Regions from separate parts of the Homo sapiens genome. Here region 1 is linked to region 2. The links come from fine-mapping of genetic effects on gene expression. A gene starts in region 2. The other region holds a variant in brackets. All regions are shown on one strand. Distances are between the middles of the regions. Region 1 overlaps RGP1 (RGP1 partner of RAB6A GEF complex). Region 2 holds the start of NPR2 (natriuretic peptide receptor 2).

What was found. PIP is the estimated chance that this variant, and not a neighbour inherited with it, causes the effect.
Region 1: its variant is fine-mapped to the expression of NPR2 in whole blood (TOPMed, PIP 0.98).

What each region holds. Positions count from the first base shown.
Region 1 is chr9:35,755,980-35,758,866 of GRCh38, forward strand. It overlaps RGP1 (RGP1 partner of RAB6A GEF complex), which reads left to right. Exons shown (of 9, transcript NM_001080496.3): 9 at 1-2,606. Among named protein-coding and RNA genes, the nearest start is that of MSMP, 3.1 kb to the left of the region's middle. RefSeq lists a silencer at 1,018-1,337. The variant C/T (reference allele first, on the strand shown) is at 1,043.
Region 2 is chr9:35,789,804-35,792,688 of GRCh38, forward strand. NPR2 (natriuretic peptide receptor 2) reads left to right here and starts at 1,788. Exons shown (of 22, transcript NM_003995.4): 1 at 1,788-2,885. The coding sequence starts at 2,606. It also overlaps a transcript of RGP1 not described here.

The DNA.
Region 1 (2,887 bases), 34 kb before region 2:
TTCTCATCATCCTGCCAGGCTAACTTTAAGTCTCCTGCTTTTTCTCACTTGGATTTGGATCCATTTCTTCCTATTTCCGCTCATGTGAACTCTCCAGTTCTCCTTTCTCACCACTCTCCTGCTAGCCATCTCTTTGGCACTAAAGGCCCTGGTCAAATTGGATTTCTTTCATTTTTCCACACTTCAAAGACCCATGTTCTAGGTATTCTCCATAGGGATAGTCTCTTTGGCATTTATTTGGTTTTTCTACGTTTTCAGTCCCATTTACTCCAAGACTCACTCCCTGCCACCTAGTGCATCAGATACAGCTACTTCTGGCTGACTTTTCAAGGGGGACCACCCTACCTGTCATCTCTTCACTGTTCAGAAATGACTGTGTCAGTGCACCTCAAACTCCCTTGCTGTCCTTTTCCAAGGAGACAGCTAAGGTGGATGGAGATGCAGAATGGACCTCACGTTCGCCCTAGTCAGGACTGATACCCTTTCCGTTTCAGAGGATTGCCAAGAAAAAACTCACAGTTGAGGCAGGGTGCTCTGAGGTCGGCTGCGGTGTGGGAGGCACGGCCTGGGCCTGCTCTCTGGGCTGGAGCAGGTGGATTCGAAGGCCTGTCTAGCACGAGGGCCCAAAGGTCTTGTCAGTGGCCAGTAGCTCTGCCGCCTTTCCCAGAGAGGGGGTCCAGGGGACATCCTGGAAGGCTGGGCCCTGGGCCACCTTCTGCTCTTGCAAGCTAGAGCCAGCCCAATAGGGGGCGGATGTGAGTGGGGAGCTGGGGCGCATGAAGGTGGGGGTGATGCCGAAGGGGAAGGGATCGCCAGTGGGGATTGGTGCGTGTGCGGAAACGGGGACAGAAGTGAAGGTTCATCGCCTATAACGAAGATGAGGTAGGCATATAGGGGCTTCTGGAAAGCTAGAGGCTGGGCTGAGCCAGGAGTCCTCTCCCAGAAGTTGGGGGGCGGTGCAGAGGTGTGGGTCGAGCCCGCATGCGTGCCTGCTGGGGAGGGGGTGAGTGGTGAGGACCAGGCCCGCTGGGTCCTGGGGGCG[C/T]GGTGGCTGGCGCGCAGGTCCCGGAGGGGGCGGCTGGCGCGCACTACACGCTTGGGAACAAGGAAAACATCCGCCGGAGGCCCGGCCGGGCGGCGCTCCAGCCTCGGGGCAGGTGCGCGGAGAGGAAGTGAGAGCATTCCGGCCCCCCCACCCCAACCCCGGCCGCTGGCCCTCTGGTGAGTCACAGCCGACCCCCGCCGCCGGAGGGAGAGGGGAGCTGCGGGCCAGAGCCCCGGAGGGTCTGGAGGAGCCAGGAGGGTTTCTGGGAGCAGAGGGTCACTTAGTGGGCTTCTGTCGTGGTGTCGCTACGGGCGCGAAACGGACACTGAACACAGTCTGACTGTATGGAGGCAGGTGGGGAGGGATCCCCTGGGAGAACTTGGCGGGCCGAGAGCAGACCCCAGGGCAAGGAGGGGCCCCCGAGGGGGAAACCGGGAGTCGGGCAGGTGGCGTAACCCAGAAAGGGAAGGAGAGCCGGATTGATTGGGGTGAGAGAGGAAGGAAGCACGCCAAGTTAGGCCTGGGAGAACTGAGGGACCTGAGGAGGGAGGAGGGAGACCAACACAGGGTGGGAAGGCGGAAATGGCCAAACCCCAGGCATCAGGTCTGTCCAGAGGCTGACGTAGACAGTGAAGGGTGAAGGGTAGGTTTTAGGAGTAGGGGGAGTTATGATTATTTGGTTACATTTTGGGATTATTTGGTCTCACAGGTAGAAGGGAGCCTGCTGGTCTCTGTGTAACGGATGGCTTAAAAGCAAGGTTGTCTGCGTCTTGGATTACTGTCTGCCATTCAGCCTTTGCCAAAAAATTTGGCACTGATCTGCACATTTTTATAGTCATTTAAAATTGTATGACTCTGTCAAATGATTTAAGTAATTTTGGTGGATTTTTAAAAATAAAAAAATAAAAATAGAAAAGTTGCACAATCTAATTCAATATTTGACTTAAAACCAAAAGTGAGGCTCTCAGATTGGTAATATGGTATTCAGCCTTTTTCTTGTTTGGCTTTTGTGCCATTTGCCCCTCACTGACTTGATTGAATTCTTTGTGGCTGATGCCTCAGTTTTTCTGGATCAGTAGTGCTGCACTTCCACTTTTCCTCTCCCTCATTTTACTGTCTTTATTTTTAGCCTTTTTTCTGTGTAGCCCTCTAACCTGCCCTTTATATTTTGAACCAAATAAAACATTTCTTGGAATGGGAGCTTTGGACTACAGTATACAGACAAACAACTCACAATTTTAGCATATGAGGCTACTATCTTCTGTGGATGTGTATGTAATTATACAGTTTCTGTATTTATCCTGTGGCTGATAGAAAAAGTTAAAGCTGTTTAATTCACCATAGTATTTCTACAACACAGCAATTTATTAGTCTGACTTCTCTTCTAAAATCAACTCTAAAATGGTATTTTGTACTTGTCTCAGAGACGAATTCTGCCATGATCCTTATGATCTGTGTTATGTTGGGCCAAAGGTGATTACTTTATAAATTATAAAGATCCCTAAACTCTGCATTGCCTTTGGTCCCAAACAAGCAAATCTGGGTCAATTAATGAAAAAAAAAAGAAAAGAAAAGAAAATGTCTTACTTTGGGCCCTGTTGCACTCTCCCGTGCTGTTTTAGCCCCAGCCCTACTCTATTCCCAGTGGCCTTTGCCTTCATTCCTTCTTTGCTCTGCTGGGCATCTTGAGAGGAAAACTTCACACCGACTTCCTCTACTATAAATTCTCTCCCTCCTCTCAACTCTACACTTCTCTTTGCCAACATACACCACTACTGCTTCACTGATTTTTTTTTTTTAAGCCCACAGTCCTTTCTGGCTCTTTTCCACCTTTAACACTCTTAT
Region 2 (2,885 bases):
CCTCTCCTTGGAGACCATGAAACCTGCATTTTAATCTCTCTTTTGCAACTAAAAAGCCATGTGGGATTGGGGGAGAGGAGCAAGTAAGGACACTGCGACCTTCCTCTCTGGGATTTGGTTTTCAATTATCTTTAAATGAGAGGGCTAAACAATATATTTATATGATCCTCTTAGCCCTGCCATTCTGTAATTCTTTCAGGAATTTTGTCATTTTGGATTTGCTTGTCTCATAAAACAATGTGTAGTTGCTTAAAAATCAACTATTCTATTTGGTTGACTTGGTCTAAAGTATTTCTCATGTTGTCTCGTCATTCTTTTGACTGTTCCTTTTTTTTTTTTTTGCCTTGGCCAGATAGGACAAAATTCCTTTTCACTGCAGTATTGGGAGCCTGGAACTAGAGTTACCAACCCCTCTGCGTTAAAGAAGGAGCTGTCCTGAGGCTTCCATCTCTACTGGGCTTGAGGCAAGAACATTGTTAGGGACGGCCTGCTCTTGGCCTCTGTGCCCCAGGGATTGCAAATGCATGTTCCTCAAAGGTAAGGGCTGTATCATTCGGCTTTCTTTGTATTCACAGGTACAGCTTGTGCTAGGCAGCCGGTGTTCAATAAATATCGTGCCTAAGGATAAAGTGGCATTGTCCTTAATTTCCCCCACCAAACCACTAGGTGTCGCCTTCATCTCAGGGAAACCATGCCCGTCCTCGCCCTATACACTCCCACCCCACTCCAGGGCTCCAGGAGCGCTCTTAGCTTGTGATTTCTGGAGAAATAGCTTGAAGGGGGGAGAGAAACCGTGGCTCTTAGCGCGGGCAGAGAATGGGCTTATGTGCATGTCCTTTATGACAGTTGGAGAAAAATCCCCAAGGTCCCATAGCAGTCCCTCTCAGCCACCATGAGATCATCCCTCACAAGCTGTTCTTGGGGTCAGATTGGCACTCCAGATATGAGGGCCCTAGGGAGAGCTTCCTAAGGGAAGCTGGGAGCAAGGTGGAACCCCAGGAGAGCGTGGATGGGCTTCCACTGCGGGGAGTGTCCCGCCGGTCCGTTACAGGCTTTCCCCAGGCGCCAGCCTGCGCTGTGCAGGAGACAAAAGAAAATCGAGGCCCTGACTGAGCAGATGGTGCGGAGGAAGCCGGGCGGGCTGCGGTGGGCCTCTGAGGACACGAGGAGGGCAGGGGGCATGGAGACAGCGGGGGGCCGAGAGTTGAGTCCCAAGCAAGAAGGAGCCTCGTGGACTTTCTAAGGACTGGTGGGAAGTGTACAGCAGGGGCCCCTGGCTGCTGGAGGGGCCCGTCCAGGGAGCGGGCATGGTCCGCGGTGGAGTAAGCCGCACTGCCGTCGGGAGGGCGCTATGGTTTGCTAGGTGAGGGGGCTGGTGAGGATACCACACGTCTGGGGATCCTCGACTGCTTCCTGGAGACTGGAACCACTGAGGGACTCAGGGAGTTCAGAGGGGAGACCCAAGAAGAACGGGCTGAGCGAGGGGGAGAGGACAAACCCTGGGGTCGCTGGCGTGTGTGAGATGGAAATGGAAGGAGGGGCGGCAGGGGGACCAGGGGCGTGGGGGAGACCAGGGTAGGCCCTGAGAGTGAGGGAGCGCCCGGGAACCCTGCTGGCCGGCGAGGCCTTGGTGCGGAGCCCCCAAGTGCTCACCGGGGTGGGTTTGGGACCTGGCGGTCCCGAGCGCCCGGGTGGGGGGTGGGGGAAGGCAGCCGGCGCCGGAGGGTGGGGCCGGGAGGGAGGAGGAGAGGCAGCGGGGGAGGGGCGGGGGCGGGCGGCCTGCCCGGGGGAGTCGCACTCGGCCGCCGGCGCAGCGAGCGGAGACGGGCCGGGCCGAGGCGACCTGACCCGGACGAGCGGCGCGCGCGGGGCCCAGGCGGGGGGCGGGAGGAAGCGCCGGGCAGCGCCGGCCGCCAGGGCCCAGGAGAAGCGGAGCAGAGAGGAGCGGGGACACGGGCGGGGCCGCCGTAGCTCCGGATGGGACCAGCGCCCGGGCCCGTTAGTCCAAGCAGGAGCTCCGGGAGAATCCTTCACAGGGAGATTTACCCCTGCCTTCCCCTGCCCTCCGGCCCAGGCCTCGCTTCGCTCCCCGCCTGCCCATGATCCCAGTCCTTCCGCGGCGCGGGCACCCTCCCACCTTACCCCCTTGGTCCTATGTGGCGCAGCGCCCTCCTGCCCTCCCGGCCCTTTCAGCTGTGAGGTTCCCCCAGGCCGTTTCTTTGTACCACCCGCCCCCCACCCCCACCCCATCCCAGTCCCAGATCCCCTTTTCCTTCTCAGCTTTAGATTTATCAGGCTTCTTCACCTCGCACTGTCCCCATCCTGGCCGCAGGCCCCCTCGGTCCCTCCCTCCCCCTGCCACCCCGTTCTCAGTCCTCAGTCCTTGCCCTAGGCTGGTAGCCCACTCCTTGCCCGCCCCCCGCCTTCCTCCCATCTCCCCCTCCTCTCCCCGGCCCCCAGCACCTTCTGCATCCCAGCCTACCTAGCCTACTCCTCCTCTTCCTGGCCCTCTTCCCCAGGCTCCAGGCTGGGGGGTGCTCGCGTCTCCCCTGTAGGCCAGAGCAGCCCCAAGTTCTGGGGGCGGTGGGGCTGCTGCTTTATCCCCATGGCGCTGCCATCACTTCTGCTGTTGGTGGCAGCCCTGGCAGGTGGGGTGCGTCCTCCCGGGGCGCGGAACCTGACGCTGGCGGTGGTGCTGCCAGAACACAACCTGAGCTATGCCTGGGCCTGGCCACGGGTGGGACCCGCTGTGGCACTAGCTGTGGAGGCTCTGGGCCGGGCACTGCCCGTGGACCTGCGGTTTGTCAGCTCCGAACTGGAAGGCGCCTGCTCTGAGTACCTGGCACCGCTGAGCGCTGTGGACCTCAAGCTGTACCATGACCCCG